5 linked regions of the Homo sapiens genome follow. The gene in region 3 interacts genetically with the main gene of each other region. Each region holds a gene or a part of one and is shown on either strand. Other genes may lie near its edges. The genes, in order: SPPL3, KRAS, PSMD14, RIT1 and EGFR.

Evidence for each region.
Region 1: changes in PSMD14 (region 3) and SPPL3 together harm fitness less than expected from each alone (positive genetic interaction), as found in Homo sapiens cells (one large-scale study listed by BioGRID).
Region 2: changes in PSMD14 (region 3) and KRAS are lethal when combined (synthetic lethality), as found in Homo sapiens cells (2 studies listed by BioGRID, with this or other methods).
Region 4: changes in PSMD14 (region 3) and RIT1 together harm fitness more than expected from each alone (negative genetic interaction), as found in Homo sapiens cells (one large-scale study listed by BioGRID).
Region 5: changes in PSMD14 (region 3) and EGFR together harm fitness more than expected from each alone (negative genetic interaction), as found in Homo sapiens cells (one large-scale study listed by BioGRID).

Annotation. Positions count from the first base shown.
Region 1 is NC_000012.12:120,784,331-120,790,865, forward strand, and holds part of SPPL3 (signal peptide peptidase-like 3), read right to left. Parts: intron 264-6,535; coding exon 144-263; intron 1-143.
Region 2 is NC_000012.12:25,228,736-25,235,270, reverse strand, and holds part of KRAS (GTPase KRas), read left to right. Parts: intron 1-6,535. UniProt on the Homo sapiens protein: Ras proteins bind GDP/GTP and possess intrinsic GTPase activity. Plays an important role in the regulation of cell proliferation.
Region 3 is NC_000002.12:161,408,091-161,413,918, forward strand, and holds the end of PSMD14 (26S proteasome non-ATPase regulatory subunit 14), read left to right. Parts: intron 1-746; coding exon 747-809; intron 810-3,211; coding exon 3,212-3,310; 3' UTR 3,311-3,627; downstream 3,628-5,828. UniProt on the Homo sapiens protein: Component of the 26S proteasome, a multiprotein complex involved in the ATP-dependent degradation of ubiquitinated proteins.
Region 4 is NC_000001.11:155,901,350-155,904,849, reverse strand, and holds part of RIT1 (GTP-binding protein Rit1), read left to right. Parts: intron 1-45; coding exon 46-119; intron 120-347; coding exon 348-539; intron 540-3,500.
Region 5 is NC_000007.14:55,205,771-55,212,305, forward strand, and holds the end of EGFR (epidermal growth factor receptor isoform a precursor), read left to right. Parts: 3' UTR 1-5,858; downstream 5,859-6,535. UniProt on the Homo sapiens protein: Receptor tyrosine kinase binding ligands of the EGF family and activating several signaling cascades to convert extracellular cues into appropriate cellular responses.

The sequences.
Region 1 (6,535 bases), on a different chromosome or scaffold from region 3:
GGTTGAGACGGAGAAGGCGAAGCCAAGATTTATAAGGAAAAACTTACATGACATGGTATATAAATCTTAATTTTTGAACAATGATAAAGGTGAAAAATTTTCCTTTTAGTATGTTAAGACTAGACAGAGAAACTCATATTTACCTGCTGTACATATTGTAAAAACTACTTGAACTGAGTCAAAGAAGAAGAACATTACTAAAAGAGAGACAGATGCTCCAATTGGAAGGAACAGAGCCTGGGTAGAGTCAATTGTTTGGATGCCTGAAAGAGAAAAACAGACAGATTAATAACTTATTATGCACCAGGCACTGTGCCTATGCACTTCATATACATTAACTTGCAAAAATGCAGACAGTTCTACGGATTATACGTAGGACATGGATTATCCAGGCCCTATGAGTCTTTCTTTCCCAACGAGATTATGAGCTCCTTGTTCTCTTCATGGTGCCTTTCATTACAGCAGACACTCAGGAATATTTGTTGAAGTGAACTACTACCTCCTGGTGTTAACCATCTGGATGACAGGATCCAAACCACCACCGAGAACATTAAGAGGTAGTAAAAACCCAGATTAGTCCATTTGGGTAAATTTGTGGTCTTGAATATAGGTTTGGTAAAAGAGGTGGTTTAAACCCATTGACTAAAAGGACTTCTCATCACCTGTGGGTTTAAGGTACTCATTTTCACTCTTTCTCGTTGTTGCTAATAGTTGAGAACTGACTTGGCTGATGGGGGAGAAGGAGGACAACAAGTCATAGCTGAAAACAGCAAATCAGAAAAATTTTATTTGGCCAGATGTGGTAGCTCACGCCTGTAATCCCAGGACTTTGGGAGGCTGAAGTGGAAGGATGGCTTGGGACCAGGAGTTCAAGACCAGCCTGGGCAACACAGCGAGACCCCCGTTTCTATCTATTAATATTTACAAAAAAAAAAATTTATTTTATGGGAACATTTTAAGGTACCAGAATAGGAGATGAATACGGGAAAATAATCTCTTGGGCTAGAGTAGGATTTAGCGCAAGGGTTCTCAATTCTTGGCTTCCCATTAGAGCTTTAAAAAAATTACAAAGCCCAGGTCCAATCCCAGACAAATTAAATGAAATCACAGGAGTTAGGCCCAGCTAAAAGCTCCTCACAAAACTGTATTTTGCATCTAGGGTTGAGAACCATTAATAGAGTATTTTTGGTAGAGAAGGAAAACATGGCAAACTCTAATAACCACTGAATGAAAAAAAAAATTACCAGTTTTATCTTGTCTCACTTCCAAATTAACTCTATTGAGATGTCATAAAAGCGCACAAAAGGAATCAAAGAAATCTTCATATGATCTATAATAATGAAATAATAGAAGAAAAAGGCTGGGTGTGGTGGCTCATGCCTGTAATCCCAGCACTTTGAAAGGCTGAGGCAGGAGGATCACTTGAGGCCAGGAGTTCAAGACCAGCCTGGGCAAACTAAGGAGACCCTATCTCTACAGAAAATTAAAAAAAAAAAAAAAATTAGGCATGTTATCTTGAGCCTGTAGTTCCAGCTACTTGGGAGGCTGAAGTGGGAGGATCACTTGAGCCCAGGAGTCCAAGGCAAAAAAAAAAAAAAAAAAGGAAAGGTCTCTTCATTATATTAAGGCTACAAATAAAATATGTAACCAGGATAAACATAGCAAGACACAAAGGGTTACAATGATCAACAAAATTTCTCTTAGGTATTTAAATTTGCCTGTCCCCAAAAGAGTTATTTAGGGTTTTTGATTGACTAAATCTATAAAACAAAATGCTTCTCAGGGACTAGGCAGATGAGTGAAGTAATTCACTTAGGAATAGGACAATTCAATTTAGGAAAAGTGAACTATGTGTCATGACAAACAGAAATTATCTTGGAAGCAGTCTGTCCTGACCCTAGTCAAATCCATTCAGCTTGGCCCAAGGATCACTTCGGGAAGTGTATCCATTAGACAAAACTCTATGAAATCTCTAACTAAATTTTACCTAAATAGTTTTTAAATGTAAGTGCTCTACAGTAGTTCAAAGAACAGCTAGAGGAAGCTACAGATTTTCAGTGCCTTTCACTACAGAAAATAATGTTTCTCAGATAAATAACTTTATCATAGGAACAAAGCATCAGGGAGTCTATAGACAGATTATACTGATTCAAAGTATGAAGAGAAAATTAAATGGCTAGCTAGAATAAAGACTGTAGTGGTGAGGTATATAAGAGATGCATTTGTTTATAATAAAGCTAAATTTTAAAAGTTCAGTCTGCAATTACATGCGAAACTGAATACAAAGGACCTTTCTGGCGTATTAGATAGAATGCACAGATTTTTTTTTTTTTAAACCACAGATTTTTGAACCAGGAGGCGATGTCACAGGGCAAGTAAAGCGCCTTTAGTTCCTGACAATATGCTACCTAAAACAATGTCCATGACTTCAGTACTCCATTTCCTAAAGTTCTGGAGATAAAGGTCTTGAATGGGAAAGAAAGAGGTAATTAATTAGAAATTTTAGCCAAACTCCAGTAACTTAAAAACAAAGCAAAACTGAGCAAAGCAAAACAGACTAGCCATAATTAGGAGGACATATGCAAGTGCAGTTGCATTATCTTTAAGGCAAAAATCAACATAGGAAATAGGCTTGGTAATGGAATTAAAAATTTTGTACAGCAACATCATTTTTAACATTCAATGAACATGGCTACAGGCTAAATGTACGTCTGGTATGGAATAGACACTGAGCAATAAAACCAATAACTATTAAGAAAATTACTGATTTTACACCTCCCTGTAAGAACGATGCTTTTGACTATTTGCTGAACACTTATTATATAGTAAGCAACAGGAGGGATTAAAAGAAAGTCATTTCCAGATCTCATGAAGTTTACAATCTAAGCAAGAAGATTAAGATGTATACCTCTACTAAAGATGAGGATCCCAACTATACATCTCCATCAATCTTTATAACTCAAATAAATTATAACTGAAGTTTAGTAAAAGTCTTTAAGATGTCAGATAATTGGGCAGGGGTGTACATGGCTTTTTAAAATTCCACTTAATACTACTTAAATGAAGGACTGATGTGCCATGGGAAAATAAATTTCTATATTGGCTTCTTGGGGGCAGGCAGAGAAGTTAGAACAAGGTCAGGGGAAATCAGAGGACCTGGAGGGAACTCTTGCCCTCCACCCTCACTCCTGTCACTTTCTAACCTTTTTTATGGTGAAGCATCACACCCAGAAAAGCACAAAAATGAATTATTACATATTTAATACCACTCAAGTCAAGAAACAAACCAACCCCAGAAATCTTCCTTTGTGTCCCTCTCAATCACTACTTTCTCTCTCTCTCTCATTCTCCTGAAGGGAACCGCTATCCTGACTTTTATGACACGTTTTCCACCCAAGCACGCATCCTTAAATACTAGTTTGCCTGTTTCCTAAATTTTATATGCATTGAGTTATGTAGTTATTTTTTTGTGTCTGGCTTCTTTGACTCAATATGATTTGTGAGAATTATCCATGCTGTTTTATGTAGCTACAGCAGTTCACTTGTTTTCACTGTATGAATACAGTAAAATTTATCCATTCTACGGTTGACATTTGGGTTGTTTCCAATTTTTTGGTTATTACAAATGCTGCTGCTCTAGGCACTCTTGCACATGACTTGATGCACATGTGACTGTATTTGCTGGATATATAACTAGGAGTGACACTGCTGGGTCCAAGGGTATTTATACTGTCACCTTTAGTAGGTAAAATGTCAAACTGCCTTCCAAAGTGACTGTGCTAACGCATGCTCTCCAGTAACGCAAGAGGGCTCTTTGCTGTTGCTGTGCATCCTCATCAGCACTGGGAATGGTCAAGGTTTTTAATTTTAGCTATTCTGGTGGTGGGCATGTAGTGCTTTTTCATTACTGTCTTCACTTTTACTTTTCTGCTTTCTAATGAGTTGAGTGCCATAGTTCCTGGCAGGCCTGATCAACTCTTCCTCTTACTTCCATGTGTTTCGAGTTGCCCAGATAGGTGGAACATTATTATAATCTGAAGTAATAATTACCCAGTCTTTTGGTCAAATACCCTAGGGCACCCTGCAGCGAGAAACTTTCAATTACAAACTGATTTCTCCATTTTTAAGTTCTGATTTTTTGGGGCATGAGTCACATGGCCCATCTAACCCTCTGTTGAGTCTCACTTAATGCTTCTCCTTCTCCTAGCTCCTATTATAATCAAGGACAGTCAAATCATTTCTGACATATTCAAAGCATGTAATCGTAAGAGTAACCCTTCACCCACGTACCCCACCAATGATGCTGGCTACACCTACAACTTCTCCTGCTCTCCTATCTCTTTACAAATTCCTTGTTTCTTATTATTTTGGGAGTGGGCAGCTACAATCTTTTAAAAACTTCTGATTACTGTCTCCTTCAATCAGTCTGAAACACTCCTGACAAAATCTTAACACTAAATTTATACTTTCTTTTTCTCAAAACCTTCTCCCCAGTTGTTCCACATTGTTAATCATCCAGGACTTCCATCTCCTTAGCACCTACACCTCTCTGTTTCTCTGTTCATCTTTCTGGCTATTATTTCTTTGATTCTTGATAAATTCATCCTGTTTTCCATGTCATCCTTTCAATCTGTAATAATTTTATATTCCATAATCAAGTACTGGTCGGCCGTCTTTGTAATGGCTTCTTCATTATGTTCTTCTTTGAGGAAGTGAATTTTGCAGTCTATGCTAATCTGTCCTTATCCTATTGGCATCCACTGCTCAGAGCAGGCACTGAAGAAATGTTGTCAAGGATAATTTAGTACAACATAGCTGGCAGAGTTAAGAAAGACCATTTAGGTTGGGTGCAGTGGCTCATGCCTATAATCCCAGCACTTTGGGAGGCCAACACTGGAGGATCACTTGAGGTCAGGAGTTCAAGACCAGCCAGGGCAACATGGTGAAACCCCATCTCTACTAAAAATACAAAAATTAGCCAGGTGTGGTGGTGGGTGCCTGTAATCCCAGCTACTCGGGAGGCAGAGGCAGGAGAATCACTTGAACCCGGGAGGCGGAGGATGCAGTCAGCAGAGACTGCACCTCTGCACTCCAGCCTGGGTGACAGTGAGACTCTGTCTCAAAAAAAAAAAGAAAAAAAGCATTTAAAAAAGAAGTATTCTACCACTCTTTAGACTGTGCTTCATGAACAAAAAATAAAAAAGCTTATGTTGGCTGGGTGCAGTGGCTCATGCCTATAATCCCAGCACTTTGGAAGGCCGAAGTGGATGGATCACTTGAGATCAGGAGTTTGAGACCAGCCTGGCCAACACTGTGAAACCCCATCTCTACTAAAAATACAAAAATTAGCCAGGCATGGTGGCGAGCGCCTGTAATCCCAGCTACCCCAGGGGCTGAGGCTGGAGAATTGCCTGAACCCAGGTGACAGAGGTTGCAGTGAGCTGAGATCACGTCATTGCACTCCAGCCTGAATGACAGAGCAAGACTCCGTCTCAAAAAAAAAAAAAAAAAAAAAAAAAAAGAGCTGTATTACCAGGTAACTTCTTTCCACTGTACGGACTGGCACAACCATTTCTTGTTTTTGTTTGTTTTTGAGGTAAACTTAGACATAATAATATAGGTAGATTTCTTTAGGTTTCTGTGATGCAATGTACAGCAGATTTATAATTTGGTTTAAGAACATCACTTGCATATGTGCTACATAATACAGGACTTTTAAAAAGAGTTTCAGGAGTATAAACTGATTTGGCTTAAAATGTTGACAGAAGATAAGCTGCTATGTAATAATTTAATCTAAAAATCAGATTTTGCACCAGGTTTTATGTGGTTCCTTGCACTAGTAATAACTACTGGTATGGAATTTTATATCATACAAGGATCCATGTCATAAATTTAAGAAAAGACTCATTATATTTAAATGAGTCGACTTACCGTCTTTATCATGCCCACTTTGGCACTGCCAGGGACAATGAAACCCATGTGACTGGGTCTGTGCCCGGTGAAAACTGGGCAAATACAACTAGGTTGACAGCGTGCTATAATAACTGGAGAAACTAAGATACACAATAAGTGATCTCTTTTCAATTTAACATCCATGGTCCTCCAATCAATATTTGATCTACCTTTTAATTAGATCTCTAGCATTTCCTCTCTCTTAGGTGGCGACCTTACCCTGTTCTATAGGTCGTGATCTCTGTGCCTGTTATTATATGTTCCCCTAACCTGAAATGACGACTTCTCCACCAATCCACATTCACTAAGTCAAACCCACCTTCTCTTGTAAAGAAACCTTATCTGACCCATTGCTGCTCACCTGACTTGCGGGTCTCTTTATGCTCTTTCTACATGGATATCAAAATGATTTCATCTGTAGAGCTTCCTCTGATAATAGCTCTATGTTCAGAGGGATTCTGAGGCTATGGTGAGGGTCACCGAAAAAAGGTACTTGCCCCATATATAGGAGGTGAAGAGGTATTTGCCCTCTCTATCTTGGCACTTTTTTTTTTTTTGAGACGGAGTTTCGCTCTTGTTGCCC
Region 2 (6,535 bases), on a different chromosome or scaffold from region 3:
ACTTGAGCATTAATTGAGTAAAAGTTTCTCATCTTTTCCTACAGGTGTTATTAAGCAGTATGTAAAAAGTCCTTACAATACTTAATACATTAAGAAAACATACAATTTCAAGAGGAAATCCCCGAGTAATACATTATTGACATTTTCAGCAGTTCTAGTTATATTGAGAAGAGCATCTCATGGAATTGGCAGAATGAAGATGGAGATTAAATGAGATGATGTTTGTAATATGCTTATGACAGTATCTGGCATATAAGTAAGGGCTCAGTAAATGTTGACTGCTGTAATTACTATTAATAGTAATATGATTACCTTTAGTAAAAGTTATTAGTTTCTTTAGGTTTTTTGTTTACTACAATATAGTAAACAAAATCTATACTTGGAATGTATATATTGTTTTGTTTTGATACATGGAATATGTCTCTGTGTCAGAGTCACTGCCTGAGTTGGAAAACCCATACTCGAGTATGTTAAAAGGTGAACACACTGAATAATTTAGTTATTAATTATAATGGAAAAATGACAAACTTGATGTTCTGGTTAATGAGGTTATCTTATCTTGAATGAGTTAGCTTTTAAATTCCTCAAAATAAAGGCATTTAATAAACCAGGAAACACTTCATTAAAAAAATTATGCAAGTCAGTGTAAAAGAAGATTAAAATTCCACATGGGCAAAGGACACACGTTGGCGATAAATATGCAGATAAGAAAAAAAACCTATATAACATTATTACTCCTCAAAGAAATTGGTATGAAAACAATAAAAATGTGTAGCTTATCAAACCAACAAAAATTTAAAAATATGAAATCCATTTTAAGTAATGATAAAATGGGTGCACTCTTAGTGCTTTATAGAATAGTAGTATAATGAACCTCATGTGTGTACCAACCAGCTCTTTCATATCTTAACATTTAGCAACATTTGATTTAGCTCTTTCTTTTTTCCAAGATAGAAAAGTTAATATTGTTGAAGACTCCTGCATTCTTTTCCCTAGTCTTATTTTCTTCCCTCCCATAAATGTGTTAAAATCTCTGTGTGTATTGTTTTGGTTGTATTTTTACATAAAACTTTACATATTATATAAAATTTAATTGAAGGTAAAATTTATTAAATTATTCTTAATATATATTGTAATTTAAAAATTAACAGCTTCATTGTCTTGATAAAATTTATGGTATCTTAAACATGTGCTTGTTTTTCTAAGAGAACATTGAAACATAGATTTTAAAACAAATTGTTGAAAGATTAAAAAATCTGCCTTTGCACACTGTTACATTGAAAGTGGGGCATTTGTCGTGAACATTCATTTCAAATATGTAGTATCTTCAGAATATTTGAGAAGGATTTGTATTATATAATTGAAAAATCTGTTAAATTGTATTTATGTTAACTGCTTAATTCTAATAAAATTTCCATTCATTTTTTAGTATCTGCATATATTTACATCAAATGGATTCATTCACTTATTTAAGAGGCAGTACTAATTACCTATAGCGTTCAAGACTGTTAGGTAGAGGGTGTGTAGTGGTGAGTACAACAGGCGTGAGCCCTACCAACACGGAGTTTAAAGCCTAGTAGAGGATATAGACTTAAACAATTTCACAAGTAAATACATAATTACAAATTATAATACATGCTATGAAGGAAACATAGGAGGTACCAGAGAAGGAAGAGTGCTTTGCATTTTTATTTTTAAGACCGAAGAGTGCTATTGGAGGACTTTGAGCAAGTGAATGACATGATCTAACCTACCTTCGTTCATTCATTCATTCATTCATTTTCTTCCTTCCTGGCTCAAGCAGTCCTCCCACCTGAGCTCCCCAAATAGCTGGGACTACAGGTACACACTACCACACCTAATTTTTTTTTGTATTTTTTGTATTTTTGATGGGATTTTACCATGTTGGCCAGGCTGGTCTTGAACTCTTGACCTCAGGTGATCCACCTGTCTCGGCCTCCCAAGGTGTTGGGATTATAGGTGCCTAGCCCATGGTGCCTAGCCCTAACCTACATTTATAAACTATCACTTGCTGCTGTGTGGAGACTATATTGTGAGATTAACAGCAGGGATACCTGCTAGGAAGCAATTGCTGCAGATTGCCTGAGACAAAATAGTTATCATGGACTAGGGGGATGGTGGTGGTGGTGGTGGTAGGTGGTTGGATGTAGGATATATTTTGAAGATAGGTAAATGGTGCAAGATTATGGGTCAGTTTTAAATGCTTAAGTAAATTTTCTTTGTAAGACATTTTAGGATGCCATGTTAAGAATCTCTTTATAACTGTCATTTAAAAAAAAACCACATATTTTCTTAGCATAATTTCCCATAGTAACATTACTATGTCAAAGGCTATGAACATTTGAATGACTTTAGATAAATACTGTAATTGCTTTCCAAAAATATTGTGCTTATTATGTCACCAGAAATGTTTGAATTCTGTCTACAATTCAGTCTTGCCAGTATAGTACATTTCATTTAGAAAAATTTTTTACTATGTAGATGGAAAAAATAATATTTTAGCTGGGAGTGGGGGGACTATGGGGAATAACTTTCCTTCATTTAATATTTTATTGTGAGTTAGTTTAAGTTACTTTATTTTATCGTAGTTTCCTAAGGCTACAAATTAGTAACCTTGGTAACTTATGTACCTAATTTAAAAGTTTACTTTTTTGAAAGGCTGGAAATACTAATTAAAAACGTAACACCTTCATCCTTGTCTTTGCTCCATTATTAACTAGTTTCATTACAGAATCTCTGTGTTTTAAAATCAGATGGGTTTTCATAACCAGTACTTTCTCAGAGTGGTAAATTTAAAAAAATATATAAAGAGAATAAATAATATTTGTTGAGAATACTTCAAATAATGTGAAGAGTTATTAACTTACAGCAGGAGTTGGCAAACTTTTCTATAAAGGGCCATATGGGTCTTTGTCACAAAGTCTTGGGTTTTTGTTTTTGTTTTTTTAAACAGCTATTTAACTATTCCTAGCTAATGGGCAATACAAAAACAGTGGGCAAGATTTGGCCTGTGGGCAGTAGCTTGCTGAAACCTTATTTAGACTCTAAATTTTTTGAAAGAGTCTACATTGATGCATATTTTTTTTTCTTCCTCCAAATACAGTTGACCCTTGAACAACATGCGTTTGAGTGACCATGGGTCCACTTGTGATACACGTTTTTTTCCCAACCAAATGCAGATATGGAGGGCTGACTTTTCATATACCTGGATGTTCCTGGGCCAACTGTAGGACTAGAGGCTGGGGGGGTCTTGGAACCAATGCCGTGTGTATACCAGGGATGACTGTTTCTTATGGCCTGACCTGAAGTTGGAACAGAATCTTTATTAATATATAATTTTTGTTGCGTTTGTTTTCTCTTTATATTTATCCATTCTTTTTAGATCGTATTTCATTTAACACTTTTTCTTCTTTAGTTTTTACCAAGTTGCACTGAAAATAGCTCAGTGACTAATTGCACTTCTAAGAGTGAGGACCCTAGTTAAAATTAACTCTAAAAATACTGAATTTTTAACCTAAACCTTTTATTTCTAATCAACAGTATTATTTATGAGTAGGTTATAGATTACTTTGAAACGGAATGTGTCTCAGAACTTTGCTATCGATATTTTTAAGGTCTGGTAGGGAAAAGATAATAGGAATGAGATTTATCAGTGAATAGGGGACTGCTTTCCCAGTTTCTCGGTCGCACTGGTGTATTCACCATGGAAGCATCTTATGAAATATGTACATAAACTACTAATATCCCACATTACAGGTTGACTATTCTTTATCTGAAATGCTTAGGACCTAGAAGTATTTTTGGATTTTGGTTTTTCAGAGTAGGGATACTCAGCCTACATTGGTAAGTAAAGAATGTGAGGTGACAGGCTGGGCGCGATGGTTGACGCCTGTAATCCCAGCACTTTGGGAGGCCGAGGCGGATCACCTGAGGTCAGGAGTTGAAGACCAGCCTGGCCAATCTGTACTAAAAATACAAAAATTAGCTGGACACAGTGGCACGTGCCAGTAGTCCCAGCTACTCAGGAGGCTGAGGTAGGAGAATCGCTTGAACCTGGGAGGCGGAGGTTGCAGTGACTCGAGATCGTGTCACTGCCCTCCAGCCTAGGCAACAGAGCAAGACTCCATCTCAAAAAAAAAAAAAAAAAAAAAAAAAAAGAATGTGAGGTGGCAGCAATAGGTAGGAAGAGTCTTTGGTCAGCTTTACATGCTCTGTAGCCATGCCTGGGTAATGGGTTGACTCTAAGACTCTGTGCTTTGCTCCCACCTCCTGCTTTTTCATTACTCTTTAGAATGGTTTTTAATTTGTGATCTATAGGAGTTCTTTCAAGTATTTAATAAGAGAATAGGCTAAATTAAGTAAATGTCAACTGAATGCTCAAATCTCTACTAAAGAGCCTCTTATTTAGAAAATAAATATCCATCTTTTTTTTCTGACTGGTGAGATAATTAATTTTTATTACAGATGGTTTGGAAAATACCATATGCTTTAAAAGATAAGCACAAAATTATAGTCTAATATGTAGGTTTTCATACTTTAAAAAATTGAAAACCAAAGAAAAACATTTAACATAGCATCTAGTACAAAGAAAAGAGATAAGCAAGAGATAAATGTCTTTTTTGGGACAGAGTTTTGCTGTTGTTGCCCAGGCTGGAGTGCAATGGCACAATCTCAGCTCACCGTAACCTCCACCTCCCGGGTTCAAGTGATTCTCCTGCCTCAGCCTCCCGAGTAGCTGGGATTACAGTCATGCACCACCAGGCCCAGGTAATTTTGTATGTTTAGTAGAGATGGGGTTTCTCCGTGTTGGTCAGGCTGATCTCAAACTCCCGACCTCAGGTGATCTGCCCACCTTGGCCTCCCAAAGTGCTGGGATTACAGACATGAGCCATCGCACCCGGCCAAGATAAATGTCTTTTAAATTATCTCCATTAAAGACATAACCTTTATAACATTTTGATGTATATATTACCAGTTTTTAAACACATAGTAGATTTGTATAAATACATAAACACATATTATTGTGATCATGCTGCACTTAGACATCTTTATATTCTCCTTATACTGTAAACATTTTGAAATACTTTACTAACAACATTTGTAATGACCATTCTTTCTCTCTTTCTCCCTCTGATAGAATGGTCTACAGAGTAATTCATAAACTAAACATACTTTAGAGGCTGGGCGCAGTGGCTCATGCCTGTAATCCCAGCACTTTGAGAGGCTGAGGCGTGCAGATCACGAGGTCAGGAGTTAGAGACCAGCCTGACTAACATGGTGAAACCCCATCTCTACTAAAAAAACAGTACAAAAATTAGCCGGGCGTGGTGGCGTGCACCTAGAATCCCAGCTACTCAAGAGGCTGAGGCAGGAGAATCACTCGAGCCCAGGAGGCAGAGGTTGTAGTGAGCCGAGATTGCACCACAGCACTCCAGCCTGGGCGACAGAGCGAGACTCCATCTCAAAAAAAAAAAAAAAAGATACATTAATACTATAGCCTACATGTGGAACATTAAGAAAATAATTGCTTTTATGTTTATGCTTTATACCTGTTGTTAGCCCTGCTTCTTATTTCATGATTTCATGGCTTCACATTGTAACATCCCTTTACCATATTTTTTGAGGACTGTTTTGGCAGAATGTGTGAAATCTTGAGCAGAAGTATTACCCAAAAGTCAGAAGAAAATCAGATTTTTATTTCAAGATTCTGTTAAAGTTACCCACTCCCTTCTTTTACTTAATCTTATAGTTGCAGTTCTCTCTCTTTTTAGAAAAGAAAAAAGAGGCCCCTCAGGATTTGCAGATGAAACAATATTGCTCTTTAGAGATATCCATCTGGCTGTTAGATTATTTTTCCACAGTTTTCAGAAGTGGATGAGGCCATTAGAATCTTGAGTATTGCCCATTTCCTTATGTGTGCCTTTGACTATAGATAAAATAGATGCATGACAATTATTTATAAGTTGATTGATTTTTCTTGTCATTTAAATCATCTTGAATAATAGAGTTGGTAGAGCTATCCCATTTTTGAAATTATTTTGTTTTGTCAATAACTTTTTGTTACCAGCATGTACACTTGCATTGTTGACTCTCCATATAATACCTTTAAAAAATTTTTTTTTGTGGTAAAATATGCATAACATAAAGTTTACCATGGTAGTTTTCTTTCATTTGTTTTGTTTTTGTTTTTTTGAGACGGAGCCTTGCTCTGTTGCCAGGCTGGAGTGCAGTGGAGCGATCTTGGCTCACTGCAACCTCCGCCTCCCGGGTTCAAGCAATTCCCCTGCCTCAGCCTCCTGAGTAGCTGGGACTACAGGCGCCCGCCACCACGCCCGGCTAATATTTTGTATTTTAATAGAGATGGGGTTTCACCATGTTGGCCAGGATGTTCTTGATCTCCTGACCTCATGATCCGCCCACCTCGGCCTCCCAAAGTGTTGGGATTGCAAGTGTGAGCCACCGCGCCTAGACCATGGTAGTTAATTTTAAGTGTTCAATTCAGTGACCTTAAGTG
Region 3 (5,828 bases):
TAACTTTGAAAGTAGTGGAAAGTGGTTTTCATGTATTGTTTGGGTTAATTTAATTTTGATTATATTTGGTTTTTAGTTCAGGTAATTTTTTTGTTGAAAACTTCAAATGACAATTTCTTCATGGTTACTAAAGATCACTCATGTGGAGTAGTTTCAGATTTTTTTCTGAATACATGTATTACTTTTAGAGATGTAAAGATGTGAAATTACTAAGAGAGAAACCCATGTGATTTGTTTAGTGGATCAAAAGTCGGTAGCTCCTTTGATCCTAAGTGCCACTGATAGTTAAATAGATACTGAAGCTATGGGCAGGCTGGATTGATAAGAAAAAAGGAGACAGAGAAATGGGAAATTGGGAAAGAACTGTGCAAATAGGAAAAGGAGAGAGCAACAGAACAGAATTAGTACCACAGTGCCGTAAGTGCCACCTCAGGTACTTCCATCTCCCATCTCCTGAAGAATTCAGTAACAGTTTGCAAATGGTCAACACAATCATTTAGTGATCCTGTTTGATATTTTCAATACTTTCTGTGTATTTCTTGTCTGTTTTCAAAATGATGATGCTGATAGTTTTTATTGCCCTGAAGGTTATTCTGAAGTTTAGCATAATTTTATTTGTTCAGTAAATTATTTGAATAAAAGTTGTATGAATGAAAATTCTGGTCATCATTATTTTTGGTGATTATCCTGCAGTGGGAATAGAGGATTTATAATTTTAAACTCTGTCCTTTGTGTTTCATTCACAGGCTGTAGAAGAAGAAGATAAGATGACACCTGAACAGCTGGCAATAAAGAATGTTGGCAAGCAGGTGAGGTGTACTGTTAATAAGTTATGCAGTTGCATAATAACATGTTCTTATAGAGTTAAAACTGTTTTAGGGCCTATATAATTTTTTTCCTGTCCACTCTATGTTTTTCTTCTGTCATGTAAATGTGATACTAATTGTAAAGGTCACTAAATTTATTTGATGTCAGGTTCTCTATAGAGAAGTAAATCACAAATACCTAAGAGATATTATCGTCAGTGAAAATAATTTACTAGGAACAAATTAGGACACTTGTATCCTGAATTAATTTTTTAAGTATTATTTTTACCTACAGATAAATAAGATAATAGAAGGGTAGATTTATTTCATGTGTAACAAGTTTTGTTAATCATGTACTTTATCAATATGTAGGTAATATTCCTGAGAAAGGTTAGAGCCTTATTGGGTTATACTGAGTGAAGAGAAAGGGCTTTAAGTATTTGCTCTTTCACTTTTCTAAGAAGAAATATATATTTTAGTCTCTATTATCTGAGGGTGGGGGAAGACACCAACCAATTAAAGGAATCTACAGATTAATTAGACTGTTTTTTAAAGAATGTTGATTACATTTTTTCCCCATTTCATGGAACATGGTTATCATATTGCTGATGTTGGCAGAATCTTGATATTTCAGATGCAAGACACTAAGCTGTCTTTGCTTTCAGCCATCCTACCATATGCTCTGATCCCATCACATCTCACAAGCTATGTAGGTTTGGGCCAGGACCATTCTTGGATGGGAAATCTCTAAGAATCACCCAGCTGCCACAAGAAGTAATGTAGATAACTGAGGGAAGCGTGTTACCAATTCACTATAAAATGAATTACTCCAACAGAGCAGTAGGGGCAAAGGTCTGACTTTATCATATGTCATAAATGAGAAAATCAAATTTCACTACCTTCTAAGTATTACAGTTTAAAAACAAGTACCCTCAAAAAGCAAAATGAAATACAGTTCATTTTATTTTCTCATCTTATGTGATATCACCCTTGTTATCTTTTCCACTACTTATTTTAATCATAATACTAGATCACCAACTTGGAGCCTTATACTTTATAGAATTCAGTAACTGTTTTTTGAATAAATGCCTTTCCAAGGCCATAGTTTCTTGATACAGATTTAAAGCAGCAAATAAAAGGTCTAAATACAAAATGAAACTGAAAAATATGTAATTGGCAAAGTTTAATAATCATCAGAATCATTTTTAAAAATATAGTTATTACCTCACTGGTTTGGCCTACTGCATGGCAAAAGCAAAACTGTCTGTAATGGAATTAAACCAATATCTTTTTTTCTCCTGCCAGTGTTTCTCAGTGTTTTTCACCTAAAATGCCCTAAGACTTATTTCTGAAATAAAAAATATATTGTAGTCTAGTCACTTAATTATTTGTAACATGTTGTATCTCTGGGTTGTTTAAAAAAAAATAGTGTATTAAAATAAGGGTTAGAAAAGCATGGCCAAGAAATAATTCCAATAATGAACATTTGTTTAAAGTTAGGAGTCTTGGGTATTTTAACAATAATCGTAAGAATATAATCATTTAAATTATAATTTTTCTATTGTGTATAATATATATTCCTTATTTCAAAGCTCTGAAATTTTGCTCAAATACTTAATTCTGCCTAAAACATAAATACATACTAAGCATTTTAATTTAAATTAGTTTATTACAATACAATTTTAAGCCTCCTTTTTAACTCAGTCTATTTCAAAAATAGATTTGATCAGGTTTAAGTTAAAGGATTGCACCTGTATAATTTGCTATGATACATTTTTTTCAAAATAGCTACATGAAACATTCTTAACATTTTAGAATTGATCCAAATTGTATTTAAATTCTTCAACTACAAACGGCAGCTTTTGATCCAAGAATATTTTCTGAATCATTTAAAGCACTACTCTTGAAATATTAAAATTGTACAGAATTCTGATTTTTGCTATTATAAAACATAGAAGAAGTGCTGAGAATTCACACTGAACTCTTACCCTTTGGTATGTCCGCTTTGAATTAAGCATTCTCTCAGACATTCAAGATATATGAACGGTAGAGAATATACACATATATTCAGACAGGTATACATATATAAATGAAATTTTTTAAAAAATCAGATGATTGTGAGCTGTATAGAATTCCTTGTTACTCTTTATAAAAATCTCTGGTACATAGTCATTGCATTGTATAAATCAAGCTTTCATTGTGTAATCTATTATTTTATTAGCTACTTAACTTTTTGATTTAGAAATTCTAAGAATGTAACAATATACTAGTAAAGTTAAATTGTAAAATATTTAAGTAAGGTCTGGCTTTCTTTACTAGTTTCATCAGCTACTGAAAAAAATTTAAGTAATTTATCTACCAGTAATATGGTTCTGTTTTCTCTTTCCTCATTTTTGTTCTTTTAGGACCCCAAACGTCATTTGGAGGAACATGTGGATGTACTTATGACCTCAAATATTGTCCAGTGTTTAGCAGCTATGTTGGATACTGTCGTATTTAAATAAAGCAACGAAAAACGCTATTAATGATGCCTTCAGTGTATATTCCTCTGTTGTTCCTAATGCTCAAAATCAAGGGACCTCTGAAGGTGTACTTGGCTAAATGTAAGACATCTGGCATCATTTGCAGCACTGTAACACCTTCAGTCTCAGTTGTGCAATTACTTCTGTTTCTTTAGTCAGGGTCTTTGCAGATTCTAAAGTTATACATGAATACATCAAAGTGGACAAATTTTGTTAAGATCCCATTTAATATTTGAAAAAATCAGTAGCACAAATATATTTTGATTGTCACTTACAAAATAAAATACATTTACAGTCTATGCCTCCTGAGATCTTTTTGGCAATGGGTGGGATTGATGGAATAACATTTGACAGTGGTCTAGAAATCTCACACAAAGATATGTTTCCGTTTGCATTTTAAGATCTTACAACACATAAAACATCAGTGTGATAAAACTTCACAGATGTATAATGATTTCCATTAATGAGTGGCTACCTAATTAGTGAGTAACTCAGAAAAAATGTTGACATTTTATTAGCATTTGTCATAAGCTAAATATTGTATACTCACTATCTTATAAACATACTTTTAGGATTTTGGAAGAGTACATTTACAAAGAAAAGGGAGCAATTTTAATTTAGACTTTATCATGTTTTAAAAGAGTACATTTCTACCAACAGTTTTGAAACTGGGAATTGGCTGCTGCAAACTCTACTGGACTTTCATCTAAAATAGCCACAGAAAGTATATGTCTAAAAAGCAAAATGAGAAAAGTAGTCATAATGTGAGTTTAATATAAGCTTATAAGCAATAATTTTGCTATTGTTTGGTCTCATCTTTTCTAAATTAGGACTACCCAGTTTTCTAATAGAGAAAAAAAAATGGCTAATACCAACTTCTAATGTGATGTACAAAAGTAACTGCCCCTGTTATTACTTACGGTTCAGAACCATACTGATTATACCATTTGTATGGCAAAAGATACAGAGACAAAGATCTAATTCTAGTCTGCACCCTTGTGAAAATATGGTGAGAGTATTACTGTAGCTTCATTAAAGGAATGTTTTACATGGACTTGCAATTTAACTTAACCTACTAGAACTGTTATGAGTGCTGTGATAGATCAAATTACTGTCCTACTGGAACAAGTCTAGGCTCTTATTGGTTCCCTAGTGAAGTTACCAGAAACTGAAAGTCAAAATGGCTTAAATTCCCAGTATGTTTCACAGTATCTTTTTTGGTGGAGTAAGAAGTATTCTGAGCATTTCTTGCTTGTCCTGTGGTTTACTGTTTCAGATATAGTGACAGTATATTTTATGTAGGACATGTAATATGTATTAATTTAAGTTGTTGGGATTACATTTAACCATTTAAAATTCAAATATAAGTGGAAGTTAGTGAAATTTTCTTTTGCCTAATTCAAACTTGTGTGCAGGCTTTTTGGATATGATTTTTCCCTTTGCAAATAAGATTCTATAACTTATTTCACAGATGTTGTTAATGAGTGCTAGTCAATGATTTTTTGGGGGGTACAGTGCCCTCAGAAGAAGGCCTTAACATTTCAAGAACTATTCTCAATATTTGGGTTGAAAGGGTTTTTTTGTTTTTGTTTTTGTTTTCTACTTAGTCCTCTGAAAATATCCTGAGTCCTGTGACTGGAAAGGCTTACCTTGCCTGTTTTTTTGCCCTTATTTGATCACCCCATCTTCCTGGACTCCCTATAGCCACACACCACTTACTCTCACTTAGTTCATGTTGGTGACATTCCCAGTTTCAGAACCTTGTCAAAATCTTTGCTAGCAAAAACCTACATTACTTTTTGTAGATTTGGAGTCGATCAAAATCAAGATGCCCTAAGAGGCAAGGCTCAGTGAACACCTTTGTCTTGGAATGTACAGCTATTTTCGCAGCAGCCTGATGTCCCAGGCCCAGTTAGGCACTGAAAAGATGCATTTAATCACAAACTTAGTAAGCTGTTTAAGACTGTATATGTATGCGCGCACATGTGCACGCAATTACCCCTCCATCATGCAGAGGTAAAGCAGCTCTGGAAACAAAACTGTTTGTCTCTAGTGCAGAAATGTCCCTGCTTTTCTCTCAGACTAATACGGGGGCACTGAAAGCTCCGGCCTCACTATTCAAAGTGTCATCTGCCTGGACCAATAGCATCTGGGTCTTATGGAAATTCGTTATATATACAGAAAGCAAGCCCCACCCCAGGCCTATTGAATCATAATAAAGAATCCTGGTGTGGTTCATATACACTTTAAGGTTTGAGAAGCCCTGGCCTTCTTTTAGAAGTACGGTTCACAGGCACATGTGGTGATTCTGAGGAAAGCCTTCATTTTCCTTAGTATATATAAATTCAAGGCATACCCTATATGTGAGCAATCACTGAATTTGGTACTGATAATCCAAAGTGGGTCAGAGAGCACATCAATTCAATTCCTTAAAAACTCTGAAGGAGGTGCACTCTTTCCCTTTTCTATCCTTTAACACCTTAACATTTCAATTTAGCAT
Region 4 (3,500 bases), on a different chromosome or scaffold from region 3:
TCCGGCATTTATGACTTTATAGTACACCTTTCTTCCCTCCTGTAGAAGATGCTTATAAGATCAGGATCCGTATTGATGATGAGCCTGCCAATCTGGACATTTTGGATACAGCTGGACAGGTATTAAATCCCAGAATGTTATGAGTAAAGGCTTTTTTACTCTAGCAAAGGGGAGGGGAAGGCCTACACAGAGAAGATCAATAGTTTATCTCTCTTAATTTTTCATGCACTCTGACTCAGGATAGCAGGTAATCGACATGCGTTTTCTTTAATCTGAAAGAAATAGCTAATTGTGTGTGTAGTTGGGCTAGATTGCGTCAATACATAATGACCCTTGTTTCCCTCTAGGCAGAGTTTACAGCCATGCGGGACCAGTATATGAGGGCAGGAGAAGGGTTTATCATCTGTTACTCTATCACGGATCGTCGAAGTTTCCATGAAGTTCGTGAGTTTAAACAGCTTATTTATCGAGTCCGACGTACTGACGATACACCTGTGGTTCTTGTGGGAAACAAGTCAGACCTCAAACAGCTAAGACAGGTGAGGATAGAGAAGAAAATACTGTCTATAATCTTATACAATTAGTCATTTTTGTTTCTTGGCTTACAGATTCTTGGCTTGGCTTACAGATTTTTTTGCCTTAAAATAGAAAATCAGGCTGGGTGAGGTGGCTCACACCAGTACTTTGCGGGGCCAAGGTGGGCAGGTTGCTTAAGGTCAGGAGTTTGAGACCAGCCTGAGCAACATGGCGAAACCCCATCTCTACAAAAAATACAAAAAAACATAGCTGGGCATAGTGGTGCATGCACATGTGGTCCCAGCTAGTTGGGAGGCTGAGGTGGGAGGATCCCTTGACCTGGGGAGGTGGAGGTTGCAGTGAGGTTGGGGCTACAGCTTACTGCAGCCTCTACCTCCCCAGCTCAAGCAATCATCCCAGTTCAGCTTTGAGGGTAGCTGGGACCACAGGCGTGTGCCACCACTCCCAGCTAATTGTTTTTACTTTTTGTGGAGACAGGATCTCACTATGTTGCCCAGGCTGATCTTGAACACCTGGACTCAAGTGATCCTCCTGCCTTGGCCTCCCAAAGTGTTGGGATTACAAGTGTGAGCCACAGCGCCTGGCTGGAAGTAGTTTGATAGTAGTCAAATTCATAATGCTTCTCTGTTAATCTCCATTGGAAAAAATTTATAGGGATTTATATATAACATGTTCATTGCAAGACTATTTATGGTAGAAGAAAATGAGAAACAATCTAGCTGTCCAAAAGTAGAAATTATGGCATATCCATAATTAGATGTATCAATTATGGGCTCCTAATAGTTTTCAATATTTTAGTGTAAGCATATATCTCTTTCCCTCCCTTTGTGTTTCTTTCTTTTTTTTTTTTTTTTTTTTTTGAGACAGAGTCTCACTCTGTTGCCTTGGCTGGAGTGCAGTGGCACAATCTCGGCTCACTGCAACCTCCTCCTCCTGGGTTCAAGTGAGTCTCCTGCCTTAGCCTCCTGAGTAGCTGGGATTACAGGCGCATGCCACCACGCCCGGCTAATTTTTTTTTGAGACGGAGTCTTGTCTGTCGCCCAGGCTGGCGTGCAGTGGCACGATCTCTGCTCACTGCAAGCTCTGCCTCCCAGGTTCATGCCATTCTTCTGCCTCAGCCTCCCGAGTAGCTGGGACTACAGGTGTCCGCCACCATGCCTGGCTAATTTTTTGTATTTTTAGTGAGATGGGGTTTCACCGTGTTAGCCAGGATGGTCTCGATCTCCTGACCTCGTGATCAGCCTGCCTCGGCCTCCCAAAGTGCTGGGATTACAGGCATGAGCCACCGCGCCCGGCCTAATTTTTGTATTTTTAAGTAGAGACGGGGTTTCACCATGTTGGTCAGGCTGGTCTCAAACTCCTGACCTCATGATCTTCCCACCTCGGCCTCCCAAAGTGCTGGGATTACAGGCGTGAGCCACCGCGCCCAGCTTTCTTTTTTTTTAATTTTTATTTTAATTTTGTTGTTTTGAGACAGAGTCTCACTCTGTTGCCCAGGCTGGAGTGCAGTGGCGCAATCTAGGCTCACTGCAACCTCTCTGACTCCTGAGTTCAAGCGATTCTCCTGCCTCAGCCTCCTGAGTAGCTAGGATTACATGTGCCTGCCACCACATCCAGCTAATTTTTGTATTTTAGTAGAGACGGGGTTTCACCATGTTGGCCGGGCTGGTCTTGAAGTCCTGACATCAGGTGATCCACCTACCTTGGCCTCCCAAAGTGCTGGGATTATAGATGTGAGCCACCACACCCAGCGTTTTTTTGTTTTGTGTTGTTTTTTAGACAGAGTTTCACTCTTATCACCCAGGCTGGAGTGCAGTGGCATGATGTTGGCTCACTGCAACCTCTGCCTCCTGGGTTCAAGCAATTCTCCTGCCTCAGCCTCCCAAGTAGCTGGGATTACAGGCGCCTGCCACCATGCCCAGCTAATTTTTCTTTTCTTTTTTTTTTTTTTGATATAAAAGCATTTTTAAACTTTATTATTAATACTCAGGACATTAGGAATTTCCAGATTTTTTTCAGTAGCATTTGTAGAACCACTTTTGGTAACAAATACAGTAGTTAGGAATATGCATCCAGTTCAGAATGCATAATAATGTTTCTCCTGAATCCTTTCCGGCTAAAAACAGGGCTGGCACTGTGATGAGATATAGAACGAGAATCTACAAAAAACACTGTAACATGTTTGTTTTTTCCCAGAGGCTACATCCTCTTTTGCTGGAATACTTTATAAATACATATTAAAAAGTAAGGCAACAACTCCAAACAGTCCAAGCTGTTTGCTCAACTCTTTTCCCAATTAGATTTGCAATCCCGGTGATCAGTTTCATGGTTGTATTGTTTAGTGTTTCTTTCTTATTTTAGTAGAGATGGGGTTTCACCGTGTTGGCCATGCTGGTCTTGAACTCCTGACCTCAGGTGATCTGCCTGCCTGCTTCAGCCTCCCAAAGTGCTGGGATTACAGGCATGAGCCACCGCACCCAACTTTTTTTTTTCTTGAGACAGGGTCTTGCTCTGTCACTGAGGCTGGAGTGCAGTGGCGCAAACATGGCTTACCGCAGCCTTGACCTCCTGGGCTCAAGTGATCCTCTTACCTTAGCCTCCTGAGTAGCTGGGACCACAGGTGTATACCACCACATCCAACTAATTTTTTTTTCTTTTTTTGAGACAGAGTCTGGCTCTGTCACCCAGGCTGGAGTGTGACACCTGGAGTGCAGTGCCGCGATCTTGGCTCACTGTAACCTCCGCCTCCCAGGTTTAAGCGATTCTCCTGCCTCAGCCTCACGAGTAACTGGGATTACAGGTGCCCAACACCATGCCCAGCTAGTTTTTTTTAAGTGGAGACAGGGTTTTGCCATGTTGACCAGGTTGGTCTCGAACCCCAGACCTCAAGTGATCCACCTGCCTCAGCCTCCCAAAGTGTTGGGATTACAGGCGTGAGCCACCGCTCCTGGCCCCAGCTAAAT
Region 5 (6,535 bases), on a different chromosome or scaffold from region 3:
TTCCACCTCGGGCACATTTTGGGAAGTTGCATTCCTTTGTCTTCAAACTGTGAAGCATTTACAGAAACGCATCCAGCAAGAATATTGTCCCTTTGAGCAGAAATTTATCTTTCAAAGAGGTATATTTGAAAAAAAAAAAAAGTATATGTGAGGATTTTTATTGATTGGGGATCTTGGAGTTTTTCATTGTCGCTATTGATTTTTACTTCAATGGGCTCTTCCAACAAGGAAGAAGCTTGCTGGTAGCACTTGCTACCCTGAGTTCATCCAGGCCCAACTGTGAGCAAGGAGCACAAGCCACAAGTCTTCCAGAGGATGCTTGATTCCAGTGGTTCTGCTTCAAGGCTTCCACTGCAAAACACTAAAGATCCAAGAAGGCCTTCATGGCCCCAGCAGGCCGGATCGGTACTGTATCAAGTCATGGCAGGTACAGTAGGATAAGCCACTCTGTCCCTTCCTGGGCAAAGAAGAAACGGAGGGGATGGAATTCTTCCTTAGACTTACTTTTGTAAAAATGTCCCCACGGTACTTACTCCCCACTGATGGACCAGTGGTTTCCAGTCATGAGCGTTAGACTGACTTGTTTGTCTTCCATTCCATTGTTTTGAAACTCAGTATGCTGCCCCTGTCTTGCTGTCATGAAATCAGCAAGAGAGGATGACACATCAAATAATAACTCGGATTCCAGCCCACATTGGATTCATCAGCATTTGGACCAATAGCCCACAGCTGAGAATGTGGAATACCTAAGGATAGCACCGCTTTTGTTCTCGCAAAAACGTATCTCCTAATTTGAGGCTCAGATGAAATGCATCAGGTCCTTTGGGGCATAGATCAGAAGACTACAAAAATGAAGCTGCTCTGAAATCTCCTTTAGCCATCACCCCAACCCCCCAAAATTAGTTTGTGTTACTTATGGAAGATAGTTTTCTCCTTTTACTTCACTTCAAAAGCTTTTTACTCAAAGAGTATATGTTCCCTCCAGGTCAGCTGCCCCCAAACCCCCTCCTTACGCTTTGTCACACAAAAAGTGTCTCTGCCTTGAGTCATCTATTCAAGCACTTACAGCTCTGGCCACAACAGGGCATTTTACAGGTGCGAATGACAGTAGCATTATGAGTAGTGTGGAATTCAGGTAGTAAATATGAAACTAGGGTTTGAAATTGATAATGCTTTCACAACATTTGCAGATGTTTTAGAAGGAAAAAAGTTCCTTCCTAAAATAATTTCTCTACAATTGGAAGATTGGAAGATTCAGCTAGTTAGGAGCCCACCTTTTTTCCTAATCTGTGTGTGCCCTGTAACCTGACTGGTTAACAGCAGTCCTTTGTAAACAGTGTTTTAAACTCTCCTAGTCAATATCCACCCCATCCAATTTATCAAGGAAGAAATGGTTCAGAAAATATTTTCAGCCTACAGTTATGTTCAGTCACACACACATACAAAATGTTCCTTTTGCTTTTAAAGTAATTTTTGACTCCCAGATCAGTCAGAGCCCCTACAGCATTGTTAAGAAAGTATTTGATTTTTGTCTCAATGAAAATAAAACTATATTCATTTCCACTCTATTATGCTCTCAAATACCCCTAAGCATCTATACTAGCCTGGTATGGGTATGAAAGATACAAAGATAAATAAAACATAGTCCCTGATTCTAAGAAATTCACAATTTAGCAAAGGAAATGGACTCATAGATGCTAACCTTAAAACAACGTGACAAATGCCAGACAGGACCCATCAGCCAGGCACTGTGAGAGCACAGAGCAGGGAGGTTGGGTCCTGCCTGAGGAGACCTGGAAGGGAGGCCTCACAGGAGGATGACCAGGTCTCAGTCAGCGGGGAGGTGGAAAGTGCAGGTGCATCAGGGGCACCCTGACCGAGGAAACAGCTGCCAGAGGCCTCCACTGCTAAAGTCCACATAAGGCTGAGGTCAGTCACCCTAAACAACCTGCTCCCTCTAAGCCAGGGGATGAGCTTGGAGCATCCCACAAGTTCCCTAAAAGTTGCAGCCCCCAGGGGGATTTTGAGCTATCATCTCTGCACATGCTTAGTGAGAAGACTACACAACATTTCTAAGAATCTGAGATTTTATATTGTCAGTTAACCACTTTCATTATTCATTCACCTCAGGACATGCAGAAATATTTCAGTCAGAACTGGGAAACAGAAGGACCTACATTCTGCTGTCACTTATGTGTCAAGAAGCAGATGATCGATGAGGCAGGTCAGTTGTAAGTGAGTCACATTGTAGCATTAAATTCTAGTATTTTTGTAGTTTGAAACAGTAACTTAATAAAAGAGCAAAAGCTATTCTAGCTTTCTTCTTCATATTTTAATTTTCCACCATAAAGTTTAGTTGCTAAATTCTATTAATTTTAAGATTGTGCTTCCCAAAATAGTTCTCACTTCATCTGTCCAGGGAGGCACAGTTCTGTCTGGTAGAAGCCGCAAAGCCCTTAGCCTCTTCACGGATCTGGCGACTGTGATGGGCAGGTCAGGAGAGGAGCTGCCCAAAGTCCCATGATTTTCACCTAACAGCCCTGATCAGTCAGTACTCAAAGCTTGGACTCCATCCCTGAAGGTCTTCCTGATTGATAGCCTGGCCTTAATACCCTACAGAAAGCCTGTCCATTGGCTGTTTCTTCCTCAGTCAGTTCCTGGAAGACCTTACCCCATGACCCCAGCTTCAGATGTGGTCTTTGGAAACAGAGGTCGAAGGAAAGTAAGGAGCTGAGAGCTCACATTCATAGGTGCCGCCAGCCTTCGTGCATCTTCTTGCATCATCTCTAAGGAGCTCCTCTAATTACACCATGCCCGTCACCCCATGAGGGATCAGAGAAGGGATGAGTCTTCTAAACTCTATATTCGCTGTGAGTCCAGGTTGTAAGGGGGAGCACTGTGGATGCATCCTATTGCACTCCAGCTGATGACACCAAAGCTTAGGTGTTTGCTGAAAGTTCTTGATGTTGTGACTTACCACCCCTGCCTCACAACTGCAGACATAAGGGGACTATGGATTGCTTAGCAGGAAAGGCACTGGTTCTCAAGGGCGGCTGCCCTTGGGAATCTTCTGGTCCCAACCAGAAAGACTGTGGCTTGATTTTCTCAGGTGCAGCCCAGCCGTAGGGCCTTTTCAGAGCACCCCCTGGTTATTGCAACATTCATCAAAGTTTCTAGAACCTCTGGCCTAAAGGAAGGGCCTGGTGGGATCTACTTGGCACTCGCTGGGGGGCCACCCCCCAGTGCCACTCTCACTAGGCCTCTGATTGCACTTGTGTAGGATGAAGCTGGTGGGTGATGGGAACTCAGCACCTCCCCTCAGGCAGAAAAGAATCATCTGTGGAGCTTCAAAAGAAGGGGCCTGGAGTCTCTGCAGACCAATTCAACCCAAATCTCGGGGGCTCTTTCATGATTCTAATGGGCAACCAGGGTTGAAACCCTTATTTCTAGGGTCTTCAGTTGTACAAGACTGTGGGTCTGTACCAGAGCCCCCGTCAGAGTAGAATAAAAGGCTGGGTAGGGTAGAGATTCCCATGTGCAGTGGAGAGAACAATCTGCAGTCACTGATAAGCCTGAGACTTGGCTCATTTCAAAAGCGTTCAATTCATCCTCACCAGCAGTTCAGCTGGAAAGGGGCAAATACCCCCACCTGAGCTTTGAAAACGCCCTGGGACCCTCTGCATTCTCTAAGTAAGTTATAGAAACCAGTCTCTTCCCTCCTTTGTGAGTGAGCTGCTATTCCACGTAGGCAACACCTGTTGAAATTGCCCTCAATGTCTACTCTGCATTTCTTTCTTGTGATAAGCACACACTTTTATTGCAACATAATGATCTGCTCACATTTCCTTGCCTGGGGGCTGTAAAACCTTACAGAACAGAAATCCTTGCCTCTTTCACCAGCCACACCTGCCATACCAGGGGTACAGCTTTGTACTATTGAAGACACAGACAGGATTTTTAAATGTAAATCTATTTTTGTAACTTTGTTGCGGGATATAGTTCTCTTTATGTAGCACTGAACTTTGTACAATATATTTTTAGAAACTCATTTTTCTACTAAAACAAACACAGTTTACTTTAGAGAGACTGCAATAGAATCAAAATTTGAAACTGAAATCTTTGTTTAAAAGGGTTAAGTTGAGGCAAGAGGAAAGCCCTTTCTCTCTCTTATAAAAAGGCACAACCTCATTGGGGAGCTAAGCTAGGTCATTGTCATGGTGAAGAAGAGAAGCATCGTTTTTATATTTAGGAAATTTTAAAAGATGATGGAAAGCACATTTAGCTTGGTCTGAGGCAGGTTCTGTTGGGGCAGTGTTAATGGAAAGGGCTCACTGTTGTTACTACTAGAAAAATCCAGTTGCATGCCATACTCTCATCATCTGCCAGTGTAACCCTGTACATGTAAGAAAAGCAATAACATAGCACTTTGTTGGTTTATATATATAATGTGACTTCAATGCAAATTTTATTTTTATATTTACAATTGATATGCATTTACCAGTATAAACTAGACATGTCTGGAGAGCCTAATAATGTTCAGCACACTTTGGTTAGTTCACCAACAGTCTTACCAAGCCTGGGCCCAGCCACCCTAGAGAAGTTATTCAGCCCTGGCTGCAGTGACATCACCTGAGGAGCTTTTAAAAGCTTGAAGCCCAGCTACACCTCAGACCGATTAAACGCAAATCTCTGGGGCTGAAACCCAAGCATTCGTAGTTTTTAAAGCTCCTGAGGTCATTCCAATGTGCGGCCAAAGTTGAGAACTACTGGCCTAGGGATTAGCCACAAGGACATGGACTTGGAGGCAAATTCTGCAGGTGTATGTGATTCTCAGGCCTAGAGAGCTAAGACACAAAGACCTCCACATCTGTCGCTGAGAGTCAAGAACCTGAACAGAGTTTCCATGAAGGTTCTCCAAGCACTAGAAGGGAGAGTGTCTAAACAATGGTTGAAAAGCAAAGGAAATATAAAACAGACACCTCTTTCCATTTCCTAAGGTTTCTCTCTTTATTAAGGGTGGACTAGTAATAAAATATAATATTCTTGCTGCTTATGCAGCTGACATTGTTGCCCTCCCTAAAGCAACCAAGTAGCCTTTATTTCCCACAGTGAAAGAAAACGCTGGCCTATCAGTTACATTACAAAAGGCAGATTTCAAGAGGATTGAGTAAGTAGTTGGATGGCTTTCATAAAAACAAGAATTCAAGAAGAGGATTCATGCTTTAAGAAACATTTGTTATACATTCCTCACAAATTATACCTGGGATAAAAACTATGTAGCAGGCAGTGTGTTTTCCTTCCATGTCTCTCTGCACTACCTGCAGTGTGTCCTCTGAGGCTGCAAGTCTGTCCTATCTGAATTCCCAGCAGAAGCACTAAGAAGCTCCACCCTATCACCTAGCAGATAAAACTATGGGGAAAACTTAAATCTGTGCATACATTTCTGGATGCATTTACTTATCTTTAAAAAAAAAGGAATCCTATGACCTGATTTGGCCACAAAAATAATCTTGCTGTACAATACAATCTCTTGGAAATTAAGAGATCCTATGGATTTGATGACTGGTATTAGAGGTGACAATGTAACCGATTAACAACAGACAGCAATAACTTCGTTTTAGAAACATTCAAGCAATAGCTTTATAGCTTCAACATATGGTACGTTTTAACCTTGAAAGTTTTGCAATGATGAAAGCAGTATTTGTACAAATGAAAAGCAGAATTCTCTTTTATATGGTTTATACTGTTGATCAGAAATGTTGATTGTGCATTGAGTATTAAAAAATTAGATGTATATTATTCATTGTTCTTTACTCCTGAGTACCTTATAATAATAATAATGTATTCTTTGTTAACAATGCCATGTTGGTACTAGTTATTAATCATATCTAACCAACTGTAGGTGTTCTTTCCTGATAACTTTTTTAAAAAATCAATAAATTATTTTTAGAGCAGTTTTAGGTTCACAGCAAAACTAAGCAGAAAGTTCAGAGAGCCCCCCCTGTCGCTAACCAGCCTCTCCCACCATCACCATCGCACCTCAGGAACCAGAGAACTTTTTAATGGAAAAAAAATCCAAGCCAGCTCGGAGGCTTCCTCCTGTGTCTGGGCCAGCCCCTCGGGCTCTCAGATGCATTCCAACTCAAGCTCTTCACATGCCAGAGCCTTCCAGTGCCCTTGAGACCCCTCATTCCAAAGATCTCTTCATAGTTTTTCTCCTTCACAGAGCCAAGAGGGAATTCCCTGATGGAACAGATTTTTCTATGGCAAGCCCAGGTTTTATTTCTTCAGAGTACCAAAATAATTAGAAGTTTGCCCTGATTCTGCTAAAAATCAGAGGAATTAAGTGGGTCCCAGCATGGGCAAGGGGCCTCCCATTCAGCTGCCCCACTCACCGCCAACCTCTCTTACATGTGGGTGGTCCCACCCTCCACCCAGAACTTTCATGGCAGGAGCTCTCACTGCCGTGTTTAATGTAATGAAGCCACTACCTGCACATCGGGAATAGCCACGGTGTGGCAGGGGAGGGTTCTAG